Regions from separate parts of the Homo sapiens genome. Here region 2 is linked to region 1. Evidence: fine-mapped expression QTL. A gene starts in region 1. The other region holds a variant in brackets. All regions are shown on one strand. Distances are between the middles of the regions.

The links. PIP is the estimated chance that this variant, and not a neighbour inherited with it, causes the effect.
Region 2: its variant is fine-mapped to the expression of POPDC1-AS1 in testis (GTEx, PIP above 0.99).

The regions. Positions count from the first base shown.
Region 1 is chr6:105,131,920-105,143,800 of GRCh38, forward strand. It overlaps POPDC1-AS1 (POPDC1 antisense RNA 1), which reads left to right and starts at 5,768. Exons shown (of 4, transcript NR_037157.1): 1 at 5,768-6,004. POPDC1 (popeye domain cAMP effector 1) reads right to left here and starts at 5,238. Exons shown (of 8, transcript NM_001199563.2): 1 at 5,050-5,238; 2 at 1,433-1,669. The coding sequence starts at 1,658. RefSeq lists silencers at 5,037-5,156, 5,167-5,276.
Region 2 is chr6:105,093,158-105,105,038 of GRCh38, forward strand. It overlaps POPDC1 (popeye domain cAMP effector 1), which reads right to left. Exons shown (of 8, transcript NM_001199563.2): 8 at 3,665-8,056. The coding sequence ends at 7,932. Among named protein-coding and RNA genes, the nearest start is that of POPDC1, 38 kb to the right of the region's middle. The variant C/T (reference allele first, on the strand shown) is at 7,215.

The sequences.
Region 1 (11,881 bases):
CAAGCTTCTACTAACCTTCCAGCCTCTTTTTCCTTGTCATTTATCACTTTTTTTTTTTTTTTTTTGAGGCAGAGTCTAGCTCTGTCGCCAGGTTGGAGTGCAGTGGCACAATCTTGGCTCACTGCAACCTCTGTCTCCGGGGTTCAAGCAATTCTCCTGCCTCAGCCTCCCGAGTAGTTGGGATTACAAGTGCCTGCCACCATGCCTGGCTAATTTTTGTACTTTTAGTAGACACAAGGTTTCACCATGTTGGCCAAGCTGGTCTCGAACTCCTGACCTCAGGTAATCCACCCACCTCGGCCTACCACAGTGCTGGGATTACAGGCGTAAGCCACTGTGTCCAGCCCATTTATATTTTTAAGCACAATGCACTACTCTACGTTCACCCCAATATGCTCAATTTCCTTCTCTTCTGTGCTCTTTGTTTGGATACTATACCCATTTACTCAGATAAATCCTGCTCATCTTCCAAAATCCAGGTCCCATGTCACCTCCTCAGCGGGACCCTGCTCTGCCTTCCTACTAAGCCTATCACCTTCTCCGTGTCCCCCTGGATAATGGGTGCACACCTGCATCCCAGCATCTGATACGCCATACTGGGATTGCCCATCTGTTTCTCCACCAGCCCCCACAAGAGTGTCTTTCTCAAGGATGAAGACGGCCTTCCTCAGTCTTTGTCTGGACACATCACAGGTGCTAAAAAATGCACCTGAATAAATGGGCCATCAGGGAAATAATCACATAGAGAATAATTTGTCAAGAATCACTGGCTAATATAACAGATTCAATTGTTTTAATGTTCTGATGTGAATCAATTTAACTTGCTTCATCAGGGTTACTGGGACCAAAAAAAATTTGTTTTATTTGAACTACTGTATCTGGTAATTGTTTTTGTTCCCAATGTTTCTTTACTGCCCACAGCAAATATCTTTTCAAGTAATAATAGTTAAAACTATACAGTACTTACTATGGGCAGGCAATATTCCAAGTTAAATATATATATGACACACATTTAATTCACAACAACTTTGGGAGGTGGTATTATTTTTACCCTTATCTGATACATGAGGAAACTGAGGCAGTAGAAAGATTAAATCACTTGCCCAAGTTACAGTTGACAAGAAATAGAACCAGGATTTGAATCACACAATTTGGCTTTAAAGTTCATACTCTTACACATGAATGAATGTTCTGGTATCTGGAAAACCTAAACAACATATGAAAGCACATATAAACAAAGTAAGTAAGGGAGAGATATGGCATGTGAAGGCCTATGCTCTAAGCTAATTGATATACTGCTAATTCATTAACAAAGACTTACATTTTTTGGCTTGCTATGGGCCTGACAAAGAATACTCTGAAGCTCTCAATGTAAAGCCCATCTTATGTCAGTTACAGAAAAGTTACATAAAGTATCAGTTAGGTATCTTACCTAGAGTTAACATTCCCCTAAGAAATATCATATGAAGGTGAAGAGTAGTTGGAATAACCAACCCAACTGCAAAACAAATATTTGCTACATGAAAAACCAGATGATGTATCTCTCTCCAGTTTTCACAAGTGGTCTTATTGGAAGGCACAGGTATGATACTTTCTAACTCAGGTGTAAAACCTATGGCAGTTGATTCTCTCAATGGGCTGGACTCTGTATAATTCATTTTGAAAATTCCTGTAAAAACAAGTAAACAAAAGTAAAATCGTAAAAATGGCAATTGTATCTTTTTACCTTCATAGGTATTATACCAAAATTATTTCTGTGAATTAAATAGACTTCTCTAGTGCTTATGAATTAGACAGACCCAGATTCAAATCCAACTCTGTCACATATTAAATGTATTCAGTTCCTTACCTGTTAAAAGATGGTAATAATACCTCATTTGCCTTATGATCAAATGAAATGAAATACATAAAATACTTAGCATAGTGCAAAACTATTCCCTCATAGGCACATATATACGTATAAACACTTGTAGGGAAGGGAGGAGTGAGGGAATTAGTCTTTAAGATAATCACCAATGTTCATAAACCATGGTAATTACAAAGTTATTTAGTCTAGTCTTCCATCAAATTCCCACTGGTGACTGAATCCAAACACAGGAAAAATAACTAGAAAACTAATTATTTGAATACTTAAAAAATATGAATACCCTCACATCTATTTGAAGGCTTAGGATATTTAGAAGGCTCTATTTTTATACCACCATTAAATCACTGTATCATACATACATAATACATTATCATATATGCAAATAATATATAGCCATATAAACATTTATATATACACAGAGAGATACAACATGAAACTTTTATTGTCTTATTTAAATCTCTACTTTATTTCCCATAATAATTCTACCTGGTAGCATATCACAAATTTAAAAGTAGTAAACTTCCAGTTTACTTATACATATGAAAATCCATAGCAAGTACATTTAAAGAATATACATTTTACACATGCTTATATAAAACCATTTCCTATGTTACCTGTCTTCGGTCTCCGGTCCTTAAAAAACACTCTATTATTAATTGCACAAATTTGGTCCTTGCCAAACACTATGTAGGTTTACAGATTATATGAATTATTCTGTTTCAGCAAAATTCCAAATGGGGACCCTAAATACATTTAAATTTAGAAATATGTATTTCTTTCAAAATAAGGTCATGCAATTAATCTTACTCTTCTACTGCTTGTTCTTAACATACTAAAGGTTTTAGGTAGTAGAATAATTAATTGGTACAAAATGGGTATTTTGAAAGGATGTTAACAGACAAATGTGAAAGAATTCCACAGCTTAAAGATGATAAAAAACAAGCACACCAATTTACAAATTGTGAATGAAATGATCAAGTCAACTGAAGATCTTTTTACATAATTCTGAAATAGCTCATAAATATTAATAGTAATAGTTGACTTAGATATTGATTTGCTACAAAAAGGAAAGAAACAAAAATTCACCTATTTTCCAAATGTCTGAAATCAGCAAATATATAAGCCTATCAGGATGGCGGGGGGGAAGATCATTATTTTAATAACTCCATTTATACAAAATTTGCTTTTCAAGGCCAAACGAGAATGAATCTCGTAACTTCTGCAGGACAGAGAATGATATGAGGTATCCTCTATCACTCATAACCCAACATCACCTACCCTAGCATTACATAGGTTAATAATAACTATCATTTCGACAGCACTGTAGAATGTACCTACACTCCCATTGTCCTGTTTGTCCTCTAGGAGGCAGGGACAATGTTTATTCATCTATGTACTTCCAAGGCCTAGCCTCTGTAGAGAAGGCCACTGAGACAGGGATGAAAGCCACTCTGAAGGAACGTCAACCTGATAAACACTTTCAGAAATCACTGTTCCGTCTCCCCAGATCTCAGTAATAAAGCCAGAGGAGTGCCTAGCCTTCCTGAGGTTGAGTGAGGTTCTACACCACAAGCCACCAGGGTGCTACATAAGCCAGGGAAAGCCACTTCTGCTCCTCGGGTCTGTTTCTTCCTTGGAATAGGGAAAACTTTAATAGCCTATGGTTCTATAATACACATTTACATAATCAATCAATCAATACATGTTGCCCCTCGAGTTCACCCAATTTCACCTGTATTGCCTATTAATCCACTATAATTCAATATCAGGCTTTTACAAGTTCTTAAAGTGACACTAAAAGTACCAATTTCTGGTCCAAGAAAAATGACAGGAAAACTACTATTATGACCCAAGAACCAGAAAATATTATTAGCAGTTTTTAGAAGGTACGGTCATCCTAAACATGTTTTGACGCACGACACCTTATTAAAGAGAGAGAGAGATATATATAGATATATGTATCTATATATCTATATAATTGTCTATTGTGAAATGCCAGTTACCTATTGTCGAAAATATTGATCAGATCAGTTTACTTTGATTACCACTTAATCGTTAAGTGGCTTACACTTAACAATTCTTATACAGAGAATAGGTGGAAAGAGAAAGGTTAGACTGCTAAATTGGTAAACTTTTCAGATTAATTTTGACTAAATCAAGAGAAATTATTTTTCCCTCATCAGATCATCAAAGTTGAAGTCCTTAAATTACCTATACTAGTAAAGTTTTGTTTATCGTTTTTCAAATAGGTGATTGTAGGGCTAAATAGCTAAATGCTGAAACTAACATTAAACCTCTACCAAACTAAAAAAATGAAAAAGATAACTGCAAACGAGCGTCTTGCTAGTCGAGTTAATTCATTCTGTAATTCTAACTGAATCTTCGCACATCTCCCGAATGGCAAATGGCATTACATTGCTAAGAGTCTTTTCGCACTTATTCATGCTTCAAAGCAGGCAGTTTCTGGGACTTGTCTGGCCAACAACCCGTTCCCAAAGGCTCGGGGAAGGAGGTTGCGGGTGGGTGGCGCGGACCTCGGGTCCCCAGCCATCGGCGCTCTCCCGGGGCCCTCTGACCTCGCTCCTTAAAGGAGGAGGGTCCGTGGCAACGGTCCTCCTCGGCCAGGCGCTCTCGGGACGCGGGGGTGAGGAGTGAGCGCCGTGGCCCACCCTACTCTCCGAGCGGGGACGGAGTGGGCGACACCGCGCGCCCGGCTGCACGCAGGCTCTGCGCGGCTCGAGGCGGCCCTACAGGGGGCGAGGAGGAACCCCGGAGACTCGGCGGAGAGAGCAGAGACGGAGCTCACCAAGGGGCTTGCCGCCGCAGAGCGCGGGAGCCGGCACTCGGTGGGGCCGAGGGCCCGGGGACGCTGGGGCTGCCTGACCTGAGCGGCGGCCGCTGACCGTTGAGGGTCTCTGTGGCCGCAGCGCCCAGACCCGGGGAGAAGGGCGGCCTCCAAGGGCCGGGAGCCCCTCGAGGGCGCGGCCAGCGAGGAGGGACAGAGGGCGGCGCCCCCGGCTGCCCGGGCGCGTAGAACAAGCAGCTGCCGCCAGGGCCGACAAAGTTGCTCCCCGAGGGGCTGAGATCCAACTTTCGCTTCCCGATTTAGCCAGGGGAGCGCGAGGCCGCACACAACCCGGCGCGGGGGGAAAGCCGGCTGCAGCTGCGCCTCCCATCCTTACCCGGCTGGTCCCTGGCGGGGAGCCTGGGCAGCGCCGACCAAAGTTCGGAGCGGCAGCTTCGGGGCGCGGGACGCGGGGCACACGGGCTCAGCTGCTCGACGGGAGCCCGACGCGCGCTCCTCGGCGGGTCGGCGGGTCCGGAAGCTCCGCTGCCCGGGCCGGGTCCCCAAGCCCGCAGCCGCTTTGACTAAAATAGGCATCGCGACGGCGGCGGCAGGCGGCGGCAGCCAGGGCTGGGGCCGCACCGCGCACGCGCATGCGCCCGCCGCCCCGCGCCCCCCGGCGGGCGGAGCCCGGCGCCGCGGCCAGGATTTCCCACCTCGCTCCCGCGACTCCGCTGCGGGTCTGCACACCCGAGGACTCGGTTTGAAACGCCCGCTTATTTATTTTCTTGTCGCCTCGCTACAAGATTCTATCCTTGTTTGGGCATGAGTGGGGGGCGGCAGTCTCGTGGGACCGGCGGCATTCGTCGTTCCTCCTTACGGGGATAATTCGAGAAGTGCGGTCCGGGTAGGGAGAGAAATCAGGAGAGAAAATGAGAAAGAGAATCCTCGTTTCCCCTCAAAGTTGGACGACCCACTCGTATATCTCCTTTTTGGGAGATTCGCCCATAACTCAGCACAAACAGGGAATAGCCCGGAAAGCGCGCGAGTTCCCGTCCGATTGTGGCGGGGGAGGCTGAACGTTTGGTCCACACGGGTGCAGGACGCGGGGGTCAGGCCTCCTGCTGCGGAGGAAGAGGGGGAAGAGGCCGCGCGGGAGGGACTTCTGACACGCGCCACTGTTTTTGTTTTCAAACAGGGGTACTTAACCGAAACTAGCAATCCCAGGCGGTACAAGGCCCTCCATCGTAGGCAAAGCACTACCTGAATGTAGATTTGGGCCATACGTTGGAAAATAAGACATGAGAGTATGCTCCGATCAACTTTTACTGTTCACTGGACAACTATTTTGGGTAAGAAAAGCAAGGAAACTTAATAAAGAATTGGCGTTGTTGGGAGTTGTCTTGTAGGACAATAGAGGAAGGTTAGATGGGTACCCAGTTTCCACCAAAAGTGTCCCATTATTGGTTAAAATTGGCATCAGTTATTAGATTATGAGATCGTTCATGCATGTGAAATGTGATCTCAATATAAAAAATACCACCACCGATTGTGTGAAGGTACATTATAAAGAGTACCTGGAGGTGCACACTGGACAAGTCTCTGGTTGAAGAGATGGTGCAGCCTAGTAAGAAAGAGCATGGGCCTTGATGTCACACAAGCCGGGTTTGAATACTCCCTCTCCTACCAGTTTACTGTGTGACCTTGGAGAAGTTACCTAGCCCTTCTGTGCCTCAGTTTCCTTTTTGGAACATGGGGATAATGATGATGATGATGATGATGATGATGATAATTATGATAATTGTACCTGCACTTCATAGTATAGTTTTGAGGACTAAATGGTGTAATTATATATAAGGGTCTTAAAATGGTGTTTGGGACATAAGTTCTATGTATATATATTGTATTTATAAAACTCCTTTTCTAATACGTCTGAACTTTCCTATAACCATAAAAGATTACTTTTTGAGATTACTTCTTTAGAGTCTGTTTCTTTCTAGATGCTCTGCCAGCCTTTTTTTTTTGAGGCAGAGTTTCACTCTTGTTGCCCAAGCTGGAGTGCAATGGCGCGATCTGGGCGCACTGCAACCTCCGCCCCCCGGGTTCAAGCGATTCTTCTGCCTCAGCCTCCCCAGTAGCTGGGATTACAGGTGTGCCCACGTCCCTACCAGCTGTTTTGATAGCTACCACTAAATACATTTTAAGGTGTGGGTATACATGTGTGCGTAAAGACTTAACTACACAGATGTTCACTGGAGGGTGAGTTATAATAATGAATATTGGAAATAGCCTAAATTCTAACCACAGGGGACTAAGTAAATTATAGAACATCCAGACAGTCTTGTTTATGAAAGAGCATGGGCCTTGATGTCACACAAGCTGGGTTTGAATCCCCCCTCTCCTACCAGTTTAAACAGCCATTAAAAATAAAAAACATAGAAACAGACTCTATGTTTAAACAACCATTAAAAATAATTTCTAGAAAGATATTATAGACATCATAATAATGTCTACTAATTATATAAAGCAAGCTATGCCCCCAAAACCCCAGCCCACTGCCTGTTTTTGTATACCCATTTTTACATTTTTTATGGTTGGAAAAAATCAGAAGAAGAATATTTCATGATATGTGAACATTATATAAAATTCAAATTCAGTGTCCATAAAGTTTTATTGGAACCCAGTCACGTTCATTTTTATGGCTGCTTTCATGCTGCCAGTGCGGCTTTGATTAGTTACAAGAGAAACCTTATGGCCCACAAAGCCTAAAATGTTTACTCTCTGGCTCTACAGAAGAAGCTTACTGATGCCTCACATAGAGTATACTTTGTGTCAGGCAGTGTTATAAGTAACTTAGATATATTGTCACCTATTACACACCCACTCCTTACCTTCAGGATAGGATACCTGTAAGGCATGTAGATCTTATAAAGATTGCACATTTTTATGAAAAGAGCACTGAATTAGTTATCATAAGATTTGAGTTCTAGCCTTTCACAGAGTCTGTGTTTTCTTTGAGTCTGTGTTCTATAGGAAGTGAAGACTGGAAAAAACCTAATCCCCTCACTATAACCCATCTAGGATTGAAACCGTTATTTATAATGAGTATCTTACTGTATTTTAATTTCTTATCCCAGATGTATGAATAGTAGCTTTATAAAATTCAAAGCAAGAATTCTAAACACATAGCCCAGGATATGGGAATGCCTTAAGCTCCCTGGTCTCCTCCTGCTGGCCACAGAAAGGTCAGATTGAAAGCTTCCGAGCGCTATTTTGAAAGTTAATATGAAGCAAGGAGCTAATTTGCACATACGTGTAGAATGAAAAGGGTAAGAAGCATGAATAACAAAATACAAGGCAGTCTGTCTCCTCTGTAAAAACTCTGGCTAGTGTTAGATTGACATAATTATTTTTACCTTTATTTCTCTATAGGCATCCTAGTCTACTTTTACCAGTTGGATAAAACCTTAATGAGACTTCAAAGTTCAGATAGAATAAGTTTTGTGAAAATAAAACAAGATCTGAGGGAGTCACTTGTTTTAAAAGTACACATATATTGGGAGGCTGAAGTGGGCGGATCACCTAAGGTCAGGAGTTCTAGCCAACATGGTGAAACCCCATTTCTACTAAAAATACAAAAATTAGCCCGGTGTGGTGGTACATGCCTGTAATACAGCTACTCTGGAGGCTAAGGGACAGGAATTGCTTGAACCCGGGAGGCAGAGGTTGCGATCAGCCGAGATCACACCACTGCACTCCAGCCTGGGCAATAGAGTGAGACTCTGTCTTAAACAAAAAACAAAAAAACAAGTACTCACATAACAGTAAGTAGCGTTATATTCCTTATCTACAAATCTGCCCATGGTATACATCAGTGTAGACTTTATTTCAACTGTTATTACTAATTGCATGGAGACTATAGCAGTTTCTGATACATTCTCATAGCAGACAGTTCTGGTCACGACTGGTTTCTGAACCCACATTCCTCTCACTAATTGTTGCATTAACTTTTTCACTGACCAGTTTGACAACCATCCTCACTGATTGTTTTTACATTTCTTTTGATTTTTAAAAAATTAATGGACTTTTTTAAAGAGCAGTTCAAGTTTACAGATGACTGAGCAGATAGTTTCCCTCATGATTAACACCTTGCATTAGTGTGGTATGTGTGTCACAAAGGGAGAACTCAAACTGATCCATCATTATTAACAAAGGTCTGTAGTTTACTTTACAGTTCACTCTTCATGTTGTAGATTCTGCAGGTTTTGCCAAATGTATAATGTCATGTATCCACCATTACAGTATCATACAGAACAATCTCAATATACTGTGCTGCAGTTCTTCATCCCTCTGTCTATCCTCCTCCCACACCCCTGGCAACCACTGATCTTTTTACTGTCTTCATAGTTTTGCCTTTTCCAAAATATCCTATTGTTGGCATTATATAATGTATTGCCTTTTCAGATTGGCTTCTTTCACTAAGCAGTATGCATTAAGTTTCTTCCATGCCTTTTCTTTTTTTAATGTGATGTATGTATATATTGTGAAATGATTACCACAATCAAATTAGTTGACACATCCATCACCTCAGATAGTTACCATTTTTATGTGTGTAGTGAGAACATGTAAGATCTACTCTCTTAGCAAATTCAGTTATAAAATAAAGTATAGCTAACTGGAGTCACTACTCCATTCATTGGATCCCCAGAGCTTATTCATCTTATAACTGGAAGTTTGTACCCTTTGACCACCTCCCCGGTTTTCCCACCCTTCAGCCCCGGGTAACTGTATTCTCTGTTTCTGTGAGTTCAACTTTTTTAGATTCCATGCATAAGTGAGGTCATACAACATTTGTCTATCTCTTTCTGACTTATTTCACTTAGTGTAAGCCCTGCATTTTTATTCATGTTACAAATGAAAGAATTTCCTTCTTTTATGGCTGGATAATATTTCACTGTGTACATATGCCATATTTTCTTTATCCATTCCTTCCTCAGTGGACACTTACATTGTTTCCCTGTCTTAGCTGTTGTTAATATTGCTGCAATGAACATGGGAGTGCAGACATCTCTTTGAGATACTGATTTTATTTCCTTCAATATATACCTAGAATTGGGCTTGCTGGATCATATGGTAATTATATTTTTAATTTTTCAGGGAACCTCCATACTGTTTTCCGTAATGGCTATACCAGTGTACACTCCCACCAACAATGCACAGGGGCTCCTTTTTCTTCATATTCTGGCCAATACTTGTTACCTCTTGTCTTTTTGATAGTAGCCATTCTAACAGGTGTGAGGTGATTATCTCATTGTAGTTTTGATTTGCATTTCCTTGATGATAGTAATGGTGAACACCTTTTCGTGTGTCTGTTAGCCATTTGTATGTCTTTGGAAAAATGTCTATTGAGGTCCTTTACCTATTATTTATTTATTTATTGCTGTTGAGTTATATGAGTTTCTTACATATTTTGGATATTAACCCCTTATCAGAGATATGGTTTTCAAATATTTTCTCCCATTCCATAAGTTGCCTTTTCATTTTGTTGATTGTTTCCTTTGCTGTGCAGAAGCCTTTAAGTTTGATGGAATCCCACTTGTTTGTTTTTGCTTTTGGTATCATATCCAAAAAGTCATGGCCAAGACCAATGTCAAGAATACTTTTTCTTACATTTTCTTCTAGTGGTTTTATGGTTTCATTTAAGTCTTTAATCCATTCAGAGTTAATTTTTGTGAATGGTATAAGATAAGGGTCCAATAATCAGTCTTCCCAAAACAATTTATTAAAGATACTATCTTTCCCCCATTGTATATTTTTGGTGCTGTCATCAAAAATTACTTGATCATAAACACATGGACTCATTTCTGGGCTATTCTGTTTCATTGGTCTAGACGTGTGATTTTATGCTGGTACCATTGTTCTGATTACTGCAGGTTTGTAATACAGCTTGAAATCAGGAAATGTGATGCCCCTAGCTTTGTTCTTCTTTCTCAAGATTGCTTTGGCTATTTGGGGTTTTTGTTTGTTTGTTTGTTTGTTTGTTTCTTTTGAGATGGAGTCTCACTGTGTTGGCTAGGCTGGAGTGCAGTGGCACAGTCTCCGCTCACTGCAAACTCTGCCTCCAGGGTTGAAGTGATTCTCCTGCCCTAGCCTCCCAAGTAGCTGGTATTACAGGTGCCCACCACCATGCCTGGCTAGGTTTTGTATTTTTAGTAGAGACGCGGTTTCTCCACGTTGGCCAGGCTGGTCTCGAACTCCTGACCGCAAGTGATCCACCCACCTCGGCCTCCCAAAGTGCTGGAAGGGATTACAGGCGTGAGCCACAGCGCCTGGCCTATTTGGGGCCTTTTGTAGTTCCATGCGAATTTTAGGATTTTTTTTCTATTTTTGTGAAAAATGCCATTGGAATTTTGATAGAAAATGCATTGAGTTTATAGATTACTCTTGGTAGTATAGACATTTTAACAATATTAATCCTTCCGAACCACGAACGTAGGACATATTTTCATTTATTTGTGTCTTCCTCAATTTATTTCATCAATGTTTTATACTTTTAGTGTATAGGTCTTTCATGTTCTTGGTTAAATGAATTGCTAAATATTTTATTGTTTTGATGCTGTTGTCAATGAGATTGCTACTTCATTTCAGGTAGGTTGTTATTCATATACAGAAATACAACTGGTTTTCACATGTTGATATTATATCCTTTAATTTTACTGAATGTGCTTATTAGTTCTAATAATTTTTGGTGGAGTATACAGGGTTTTTATATATAAGATCATGTCTTCTGCAAATATACAATTTTACTTCTTCCTATCTGATTTGGAAGGCTTTTGTTTCTTTTTCTGCCCCAGCGAAGACTTTCAGTACTGTCTTAAATAGAAGACAAGACACTCTCGTCTTGTTCCTGACTTCAGCTTTTCCTTTTTCTTTTTCTTTGTTTTTTCGAGACGAGGTCTTGCTGTATTGCCCAGTCTAGTATGCAGTGGCATGATCATAGCTCACTGTGGCCTTGAACTCTGGGTTCAAGTAATCCTCTTCTCTCAGCCTCCTGAGTAACTGCAACTATAGCTGTGTGCTGCCACAGCCCGCTAATTGTCATATTTTTTTAGAGACAGATCTCACTGCTCACTGTGTTGGCCAGGCTGGTCTCAAACTCCTGGCCTCAAGTGATCTTCCCACATCAGCTTCCCAAAGTGTTGGAATTACAGGTGTGAGCCACCATGCCC
Region 2 (11,881 bases), 39 kb before region 1:
AAGCACCATGGCATTTAACAGGCAGCTGGGACGAGCGAATAGACGAAGAAAATCAGAAAGACATAACTAAAAGTGGGAAAGAGGTAAATTTTCTCATGACAGGATGAAGAAGAAGGCTGGGAGAACGTGGAAGTCAGTGGGATATATTTGTCCTTGGCGAATAGCAAGAAAATATTAACGTAGTGTTTAATATCCAGGATCCAGCTGGGCACAGTGGCTCACACTTATAATCCTAGCACTTTGGGAGGCCAAGGCAGGCAGATCGCTTGAGTTCAGGAGTTCAAGACCAGCCTGGGAACATGGTGAGACCTCCATCTCAACAAAAAATACAAAAATTAGCGGGGCATAGTGGCACACGCCTGTAGTCCCAGCTTCTCGGGAGGCCGAGGTGGGAGGATCACTGGACCCTGGCAGGTCGAGGCTACAGTAAGCTGAGATCGCACCACTGCACTCCAGCCTGGAAAACAGAGCAAGAGCCTGTCTCAAAAACAAACAAACAAAATACAAAAAACACAAAACAAAATCCAAGACCCAGTGGTAGAGCAACCAAGAGGACGCTGCTATAGATGACATGGGAACTGTGAACATGGCCCAAAACTGGAATGAGAACAAGGCCTAAGCATAGAGTAGGAGTAGAATAAGTAGAAAATAAGTCGGTTTCTCAGAGTTGAAGACACAGCCTGAGAAGCATAGTGAGATCCCATCTCTACCAAAAAAAAAAAAAAAATTAGCCAGGCATGGTGGTGCACCCTTGTGGTCCCAGCTATTGGAGAAGCTGATCTGGGAGGATCACTTGAATCCAGAAGTTCAAAGCTGCAATGAGCTGTGATCGTGCCACTGCACTCCAGCCTGGGCAACAGAGCAAGAACCTGTCTCTAAAAAAAAAAAAAAAATTAACCAGGGTTGTAAGGCAGAACTAGGAAAGTGAACAGACCACATGTGTTTGGGACCTGCCGACAATGTGACCTTGGGTCAGTCACTTACCGTCTCTGTACCCACCTTCTCTCCCTTCTAAAAAGGGGACACAGGGCCTGCCCTCCCACATTGACAGTACTGTTGACGGTTCAAATAGATAAGTGAAAGAGCATTGCTAGATTCAACGATGATCTGAAGAGACATTGAGACCTAAGCAAACGTCCCTGCCTTGGCTGCCATACAACCAGCCATATTGTGTGCATAAATTCTTGGCCACAGAGGGCAGCAAAGGAGGGAAGAGCAGATCCACAGAGGTGTGGGAGTTTACCCTGGGGGTACCGCTGGATGGAGAAGTGCGGGCATTTTGGGCAGAGGTGGGCTCACGTGTGATGAGTTCAGGGGATGGAGAAGTCACTGTCTTGGCTGGGTGCGGGTGACTGGGTATGGGAAGGGCCTTGGTGGCCGTGCAGAGAGTGCGGCCTTTTCTCTGCAGGAAAGGAAGCTCCATCAGAAGGTTTTCAATTCTGTTGGCAAATTTTCAGATTATTCTGATAGCAGCACAAAGGTCGACTGGAAAAAGTGAGGCCAGAGGTGGAGAAACAAGGTGGGGTTCTATTGCAGGAACCAGGGGAGAGCCACAGGGGCTAGAAACAGAGGCACTTAGAGAATGATGAAATTCATCATTCTGCTTAAAAATAATAACTTATTACATGTTAACATGAAGAACGTTTTTCTATTTATAAAATTTATAAAATTACTATTTTATAAAACAAAAAAGTGTAGAGTGGCATTGTTTTATGCTTTTGCAATTCTAGAGGTGTGGCTAAATACAAGAGCTGGATTTTCACATCTGCTCTGCATTCAGTAGATTGTAACATATATCGTTTTGGTTGAAGTATATGAAGAAAATCTAGCCTCACACAAATTTTGGAAAAGGGAGGAGTACAGAGTTAAGTACTTTAATAATCTTGAGATAATTGTGGATTTTTTTTTTTTTTTTTTGAGACAGAGTCTTGCTCTGTCACCCAGGCTGGAGTGCAGTGGCATGATCTCTGCTCACTGCAGCTTCCGTCTCCTGAGTTCCACAGATTCTCTTGAGTAGCTGGGATTACAGGCGCATGCCACCACACCTGGCTAATTTTTGTACTTTTAGTAGAGGTGGGGTTTTGTCATGTTGCCCTGCCTGGTCTTGAATTCCTGGCCTTAAGTGATCCACCCACCTTAGGCTCCCCAAAGTGTTGGGATTACAGGTGTGAGCCACCATGCTGGGCCAACTGTGGCTATTCTTGATACTACAGAAAACTCTATAATAGTTTCGTTTTTCTTTTTTTTAAGGTTAGTCAAGTGAAGCAGTGGGAGTGGAAAAGGAACAATCTTTCTTAAAGGTTGTTTGCAGTGTGGAGTCCAAAACCCTGTTAATGGCAGTTTTGTGCTGCTGCACTGGTCTAGCTTGTGCTTGGAATAGATCTTATATCCATGTGTGTGACTTTACAACATCATGTGTTGACCATTTAAAAAATACTGGCTCACTTATGCGGATCTTTCAAATGTTAACACATTTCGAAATAAAAGATCAAAAATTCACTCATTTATTATTATTCATTCATTCATGGGGGGGCGAGGGATGAGGAAAAGAAAAAACCTTAACTAGAAAAATCTTTATGTATTAGGAAGCTGGTGAACTCACAGTGACGTCTCCAACTTGGAAATCTGTATCTTCAGCCCAGATCCCTTCACTGAGTTCCAGGCTGACTTATCCAATTGCTTGCTTGACATCTTTTCATTATTCTCAAGGCCCCTAGAACTTAGCATGAAGAAAACATACTCAGGCTTTGCATTCAAACCTGGCGCTCTGCGATGTTCCTGGCCAGAGAATCACCAGCAGTAACATAAGCCAGAAATCTCCGACATGCTCCTCTCACTCACCACCAGTTCTGCTCCCACAAATAGCCAAGTCCTGTCAGCTTTATCTTCTGGTGGGCTGTAGCCATGTCTGTCTACAGAAAACCCCCAAGTGGACATCACTGGAAACTCCCAGCTCTTACAGCACAGCCTTAGGTAAGGGGAAGCTGACCAAAAGCTGGCTCAGCACGAAGTTCAGGGCTGGAAACCCAGACATCAGGCCTAGATGCCATGGCCTGTTGAGTGACAGAATTAATTCCTCTCATGGTATAAGATGCTCCTTCCATTTGGGCCTATCATTGAGGCTGACTAGGGTGGGTGTGTTAGATGCCAAGGACTTGCCACTCAAGGCCAAAAGATGGGCTGTCAAGTTTCCATTCCAATATCTAGGACAGCTGATGGGAGAAAACGTGGGTTTCTCAAAGAATAGAAAGACTGTCCCCCTCATCCACCACAGAACAGATCCAGGGAGGTTTTCTGACTCCTTCATGTGACTCCTCATATTGTTGAATCTTAGGAAACTAGAAGGGAGTGAATGTTCAGATGCAATAGAAAAAAAGCTGAAGCCCACTAAGTCCCATCAATAAAACTCTGAAGGCTTCTCCATTGCTGCATCTAGTCAACACTGTCTACACTGCCTTCTGGCCATTTTTTTTTTTCACAGTCAAAGCAGCCAAGATGGCAGGACCTTTGAAGTCAGGTATGACCGACCCACAAGCACCGCCCCTGCTGGTCTGCTCAGAATACAATGGCCTGCACCAGGCCCATCCCCACAACCTTGGCCTTTGGGCATGACATTCGAACAAGCTAGATATATGTAAGAGGAATGAAATAAAAAATACACACATTTTCTAAGTAAGAAATTTATTTGATCAAATGGCAATATATGAAGATATTTTAAACTATAAGGCTCTATCCAGACAAAAAGCATCTTTTTATAAAGTAAGTGTTATCAATTTAAATGGCACCTAAAATCAAAGAATGAGTTTCCTATAAATGTCTGTATAAAGCTTTCATAAAATCCTCATGTATTTTAAAACTAGGTTGCAAGTATAACAGAAAAACCTATAAATAGTACTTAAAAGCAGGTTTCTTAAAATTTATGACACCTACAGTGTGTCACTATAGACAGAGTATTCGGGGGGCTCTGTGACAATCAAACATGGCTGCCATGAGTAAGGGAGCGTGTCCCCTGATGAGCAGAACCGAAGCAGTGATTATGCCTCAGCCTCGAGCTCCCCGCACAGCATCCTACCATTCCAAATTCTTGGGACTTTGAGTTGAGTTGAGAATTACTACAAGAGGAGGTTAGGAAACCAGGATTGGAAAGAGGGAAGGGAGAGGAAACCAAGGCATGCCAGGATCAAAGATATCTATAAAGCAGCTTTATAAATGACCAAGAAAATGGGTTTCTAAAAAACGCAAAATGGTGAGGCCTTGGGGCTGCAACGTGGCATCTGTGAAGAGGACGACGCCACGCCCGCTGGGAAGGGCTGACCTGCATGCCAGGTGCTTGGCTTGGAGCCACCACACGCAACAGCATGAAACTTTCTCTGGAGTGCCAAGTCATTACCTGGAAACACTGGGGACAGGTCAGTGTGTAGCTTATACCAGCTTTCCCCAAAGATTTTTCCAGCAACCAAGTGACTCAGCAACCAAGTGACTCTGTCTTTGGGGCCGTGATGGGAGCTGACATGGAGGAATCTGCAGCTCCAGGTTCTAAGATCAGGAGAGCTTCAGACAAGTGGGAAAACCAGATATAAAGAGGGTGACATACACACACTGTTAGCAGCAAAACGCAAAGGTGTCCAATGATTAAAATGAAATTGAGTGATAGGGAGAAATGGAGAAGATTCCAGAGTGTCAGGGATAGTAACTGAAAATAATTATATAGCACCCATTATTACTAATTTAAGATATATAAGCATCACTGCGGATTTATATAGTGTCTATGCTATTAGTTTAGTAAATATAAATATTTATGAGGGCTTTCAAAATATTTTAAATGACATATACATTCTAATATAAATATTACACTCCAGATTCATACAACTGAGTTGATGTTACATTTAAAGTAGTAGATTTGGGGTTGTATATGGAGTAACTTTTGCAGACCATTTTCTGAACTTTGATCATTCAGCTAAGTAAAGGCCAAAAAACACAGGAAGCATCTTATTGGGAACTTTGGCAGCAAACATGTTTTTATCTATGTATTTATGCATTATACAAAGATACACTTATTCATTTGTATAAATGAATTTAAAGTACTCCATAGGAGATCTTACACTTAAAACACTTTTCTGTCTTCTTATCTGCTTCTTTGAGATCAAGTCTATATGGGAGGCTTCTTCCTTAGAGGTGTGTGTTTAAAAATAGTCTCACGTTTCCCATTCAGGCTAAGTGGCTCTTTTAAGATTCCTAATCTTGAGGTTACAATCTTCACATTGAGACACTGATACACACACATACTTTAATAAAAACAGCAAATGGTCTTATATCACCTACTTTTAGCAGTGTGCTTTTAAAACAGGTTTGTTCCCAGCATTACAGAAAATAATCTCCAAACACATGCATTACTTTCTACTCAGGGAAGGATGTTACATCTAATGACTGTATAGAGTGATTTTGTAAATTAGTCTTATGCGCGTGTAAACTAAATGGGCTGCCCAACTTAACCCCAATGGTTAAAGGAAAGTAGTCTCGGCACTATGACATCACAGTTACACCTGTGCTCTCAGGTACAGGGCGAAAGTGAGAGCGAGAGCGCACGAGAGAGTTCAACCTGAGAGAGCTTTATAATTTCAAGCCTAGGCTGTCATTCACCTTTGCTTCATTTCTCCAAAACAAGCTCCTAATTTAGCTACCTGAAGAGACTGCTGCAGCAGTACAGTGAAAGCAGCCTTTTTTTGAAATAGGGTCTCACTCTGTTGCCCAGGCTGGAGTGCAGTGGTGTGATCTGTGCTCACTGCAACCTCAACCTCCCAGGTTCAAGTGAACCTCCCACCTCAGCCTTCTGAGTAGCTGGGACTACAGGTATGTACCACCACACCCAGCTAATTTTTTTTGTAGAGATGGGGTTTAGCCATGTTGCCCAGGCTGGTCTTGAACTCCTGGGCTTAAGCAATCCACCCACCTTGGCCCCCCAAAGTGCTGTGATTACATGTGTGAGCCACTGTGTCCAGTCGACAGTAGCCTTTTTACTGTGATGTCAATAAACCAACATCTGAAGATGACAGGAACTGGATTCAGAGTCTGTGTAAATTTTCTCAATGAGTGACCGAGCATGTAAATTTAACTCAAATGAAATTACTACAATAATTGCTTTAAAAACATATTTAGGAAAATGAGGTGACCCTAGATGAGCTTATTTATATGTCTCCTCTAACAGAAATCACCTCATGGTAAGAGTTGCTTCTTTTGGCTCAGTTCACCTGAGAACAACTTCATTTGGAACTTTTCTTAGCCATTTAACGTAACAGGAGACTGACTCAAAGTTGGTTCTAGTGGATGAAGCAAAATAGACATGACCAGCATGGCCAATCAATGAGCTTCATTCAACGGAGCGTCCTGGCCAAGTGCCACAGCCACGCTGGCCAGACACACTGACCAGTTACGCATTTCCCACCAGCCAAATGCCACTGTTTACTAAACCATGATTTCAGTAGGAAAAAGAGCTCTGGAATCAAGGCCCTCACTGCAGTACCTGGGTGGGGTGTCCATGGCCTGGCCTGTAGTAAACCCTCTGCCTTCCACTGTGTTCACGTTCGCAGCTCTGGCACTGGGGCATCTGGCACTTTTTTAAAAGAGATGTCTCTGCCTCTAGATGAACAATCTGGAACTTCAGAATACAGATCAAAGAATGAAGCAGATCTTTCAGTGGCCTCATCCTGTGGCACCTGCCCAGCCATTTAACTCCCCTGTCCTCCCACCCTACATAAAGTGTTTCCCACACCAGAGTGTGCACAACATGGTGACTCCAAATCCCAAGGAAGTTGAGTTTAGCTGGAGGTTAACCCCGTGCTCAGAAACCCATCTGTTATCTTTCCAGCTTCAGGTTTCAGAGCAGTTTATAAATGGCATAATACAAGGGTAATGTGAGTAAAATCTGAGAGTTTTGTTCATTATCAAGTTATCCACACAGTGCCCAATTAAGTAAGGTGATCTAGTGGAGTAATACTTCTGGCCTGGGAGAAAAATAAAACCAGTCAAATCACACCTTTCTCTAAAATGTCCCATTAAAAAAATATGGAATAGGCCGGGCGCGGTGGCTCACGCCTGTAATCCCAGCACTCTGGGAGGCCAAGGTGGGCGGATCACGAGGTCAGGAGATCGAGACCATCCTGGCTAACACAGTGAAACCCCATCTCTACTAAAAATACAAAAAAATTAGCTGGGCG[C/T]GGTGGCAGGTGCCTGTAGTCCCAGCTACTCGGGAGGCTGAGGCAGGAGAGTGGCGTGAATCCAGGAGGTGGAGTTTGCAGTGAGCTGAGAATGTGCCACTACACTCCAGCCTGGGCGACAGAGTGAAACTCCATCTCAAAAAAAAAAAAAATTATATGTATGTGTGTATGTATATATATGTATATATATATATATATGTATGTATGTATGTGTGTGTGTGTGTGTGTGTGTGTGTGTGTATATATGGAATAAAGTTTGAGATTCCCTGCTTTTTCATGTTACCTTAGCCTCAATTTTAAACTTACATTGTTTGTTAAAATTATCAAATGGACAACCTCATTGCTATGGAACAAAAAAGACTGTGAGGAAAAAGAATCATAACTTGGAAAAAAATAAGTGAAAAGGCATTGAGAGATTGCTAAGATTTGTTAAGTTAAAACAATAATATATCTAGAAAAGACTGTGAAAATATATATCTCAAAAGAGAACAAGGCATAGTCAGAAGGCTCAGTAAAACAATTACTTTAAAAGCTGACTAATAAAAAGGGTAAGTGAAAGAACTCTTCCATCCTTGACCCTTCCTCACTTCCTCCCTCCGACTCCACCAGTCTGGATGCACTAAAGCAGAATAACCTAAAAGCCATGAAAAAGTGCTGGTATTTTTCAGGATCTCTTCAAGACACCTTCCGTCTTGGTAACCTGAATTCTCTCTCTGATCAAGGCAGCTGATGGACTTTCAATGTATTTGGAGATGCCGGTTCAAAAACGTCATCATCATCTTCTGCTCCTTCTTCTATCGGTTTCATCTTGGCAGAGGCTCGCTGGTGTGGGGATGACACATCTGTGGAAAGATACAGGAGGGAAAACCACTGAATGCACAATCTACCCAGACCCTGGTGTGATATATCAATTATAAATTCCAACTGGAAAATAAAACTGTAGGAATCTATCACTAGCAGCACCAAGAACACAATTTCCATAAACCATTCTATTTCAATCCAGCATCTCAATAAAATAACCAAGTCAAGAAGAGACTCTCAGTCAGGAGCACAGATGAGGGACAGATTCCACCGCATGTGCTTGGATGATCTGAGCTTCTCAAATATATTCAGTTCCCAGGGGTTTGCCCCACAGTCTGCTTAGGACTCAGAACGCATGTTCCTACATTAATATCATACATGGGGGCTTGAGTCTCATATTAGCCCTTGAAAGTTGATTTAACTCCTAATTTCCCCAAAGAATACTTCTATTCCAAAATTATGGAACCTAATCACCATCTGTAATATCACCTAAAACATTTCTTGCCTCCACCATGGAGTCCAGCCACCCACTGGGCTTACACGCAAAGGAGACAGGGGAAGAGGAAGAAAGGCCAGGCATTCAGGAGGGACAAGCCAAGTAGAGGAAACGCAATCCCAGGCAGCAGCAGGAGAAAAGGCAACCCCAGGGCCTTTTAGGATGCCATTTAATCAAAGGAACCAGGCAGCAATTCATTCATTCAGTCACTCACTGGTTCATGCATTCACCAAATGGTTATCAAGCATCTACCATATAATGGATACCATGCTTGATGTAGAAGAAAATACTATCTAAAAGTAAGAGTAGAAGTCATTATCAAAAGGCCTCTCAAGGTGCCTAATGAGCAGCTAACGTGACTGCATAAACTCCCCTCCTTACAGTCACCACCATCACTGTCAGGATCCATGTTGTCCGGGTTTCCACCTGCTCTGCCCACACCCATATCTTCGCTACCCAATCACAGGGTGGAGTGGCATTCCGGCAGCCCACAAATGCTGAACTCAGCTGGGGAGAAGGTTGATGGTGGAGGGATACCGGGTGAAACCTGGCTCTTTAAATACATGCTCACAGCAAAAGCGAGTGGAGGATCTATTAAGACATGAAGCAGATCTGCTACAAGATGACCACAGAAGTTTGTCAAGATCAGCTGTCATTCACTGGCAGGAGTCAGGAGCAGACAGCTGGGTTGGCCAGCACAGGGAGAATGCCACAACCAGCAAGGAGGGCCAAGGGCTATGAGCATGTCACACGGCTGCTCCTGGAGGGAGGCTGAGACAGCGGCAAAGGCTTTGCCCTGGCACTCAGCCATGAACGAGTGGTCATTCCTGGCCCCTGGTATGGCACAGGGGGAGGGAGCATGCAGAGTGGTCAAGACCAGAGGCTCAGCAAACAGTTCCAGAGTTCAAATCCCTACTCTGCAACCTGCACTCAATTACTATACCTTTCTAGGCCTCTGTTTCCATATCTATAAAAAGGGGATATTCTTAGGATCTGCTCCATGGGATTGTTAGGAGGATTAAACAGAATAATGCATAGGATGTACTTAGCAGGGTGTTGGGCCTATAGAACATGTGACTAAATGTCATTTCTTATTAACTGTACAGTCACTGCCGTACATCTGGGGAAATGCTACCACCAGTCACATCCTCTAACATAAAAAAATATGCAGGGCTAGACTGTGGTACAGCTAATGTATACTCGCTGTATATATACGGAAATTGTTCACTTACAGACATTTACAGCAAAAATACTGAGTCTCTTGAATGACAACTATTGACATAAACTGTAGAAAAGAAGCATCTAATAAAATGGTCCAAGAACCCAATTCTGCACAGGGCACAGCATGGGAAGTTCTCAGGCGAGTTCTTCCCCTTTCCCATGCAGGTGACATCAAACACACGAAACACAACCTCTACTTCAATGTCTATTCAAATGGCAATGAATTCTATCTGTGCGACCTTGGACAAGTTACTTCTTTGTGCCTTAATTTCCTTACCTGTAAAATAGGAATAATAAGAACAGCACCTATTTCATATGGTTGTTATAAGGATAAAACAACTTGATATTTGTAAAGTTATTAGATCAGTGCCTGGGATGTAATAACCACTTTGTAAATATTTGTAAGAACATAAAAATCAATTACTATGGTCTTTGGAAGGCTATGGACTTAATAATGAGAAAATTTGTTAAAATTCATCATTGCTCATAAGAATGGCCAATAAAGGAAATGGGCCTTGTGCTCAAATGTGGGTTTGTGTTTCTCAATCTTAGCTCTCTTGAGTGTGGCAAAATTGTCTTTAAAAAAAAAAAAAAAAGCCCTGGTTTCCATCATATTTTTAGCCTTAAGTTATCATTGGGTCTCATAAATATTAACTTAGGCTGAGTATCTACAATGAGACAAAACTCTCAGAACAAACAATAAGATGGCATGTCTAAGAGCATTAAATCAAGTCAATAATATATAGTATATAGACATAATTGTGTAACACGCTTAACAGAAACATACCCAGTTTATTCTGTCTGAGGAAGTAGGACTAACTGGTTTCTAGTTTTTAAGCTCATCTATCATACCAGGAAGGACATCCTACAGTTATATTGAGGCAGGTATCTATACTCTGGAGCCACAATGGTATCTGACCCTCCCAACTCTCTCACCTATACTTTGCATTTTTTTTCACTGAGAGAAAATGAAGGGAGGACTCAACACAAATGGAAATGGTTAAGTGAGAACTTCCCAAGAGCTTTCAGCTTTTCTGTGAAAGAATTTATTCTGCTCCCACCATATTTGCTGGGGCAGAAGAAGAGCTATGGAACTTACTATATAACATTAAAAGGATAATGAGAGTGATTCACAATCCTTAGGGTGACATCCAGGGTTCTCCAAGTTGGGTCTCCCTCCCTCTTCCAGTCCAAGCTCTTGCAAACTCACTGCTCTTCAAATCCAGCCCATCCTCCTCTTTTCCTCTTGCCTTTTTTCCCTCTACTTGGAATGGTTCCTCCACTCCCATCTCTAACCACCAAATTCCCATTGTTTCCTCAAGCAGGATTCAAACTCCACCTCCTTCATGTGTAACCCTCCATGACTCCTGTGGGAAGATTCTACCCTCTTCATCTCAATAACTTCAGCCCTTCCACATTCTGTGTAACATTGTGGTTATAGCATTTGCATCTCTTCCTTATTAGAAAACAGGCATCTTGAGTGCTGTAACCAAGGCCTCTTTCCTCCTGCAGCCTCACAGAATTACTCCACACATAGTCAGGACCTTGATAATGTCCTTAAGTACACAGTGATGAAAAAATCCCTCCTCTGAAAGGCCACATAGGGAACCTCAGAAAGGATCCTGAGGATGAGGGAAAAAGACATGGACATCACCTTTAATTTCTGGCGGGTCTCCCAGTGGGGCACCACCAGCATTCCTCAAGCGCAGGCAGGCCTCAGGGTCCAGTAAACCTCATTAGGAAAAGGGACTGTCATCACTCTACTTTGTAGCATGTCCCCTGAAGGAAATCACTTTTGTAGAATTGATTCGACACTGCTTAGGGCATGGACAAGAACACCGTTCTCTCAAAGGAATATCAATAGGCTTAATAGCACCATCACCTGCTACAATGTTTTCATCCAATCAGTAAAAGGAATCAGGGAGTGACCACAAGGTGCTAGGACAATGGGTTAAATGTTGGGGAAATAAAAAGGAATCACACCCAGTCTTTCATGCTGTCTTATTTTATTTCTCAGAAACTCAAAGCACTTTTCAGAGCAATTCACCCTCACCACATCTGTACTATTATTTCTACTGTATATTCAGAAGCTAAAACAAAGACATCCGTGAAAGAAAACAGAGAGGGGTGGCTGCCATGAATGAGCTTA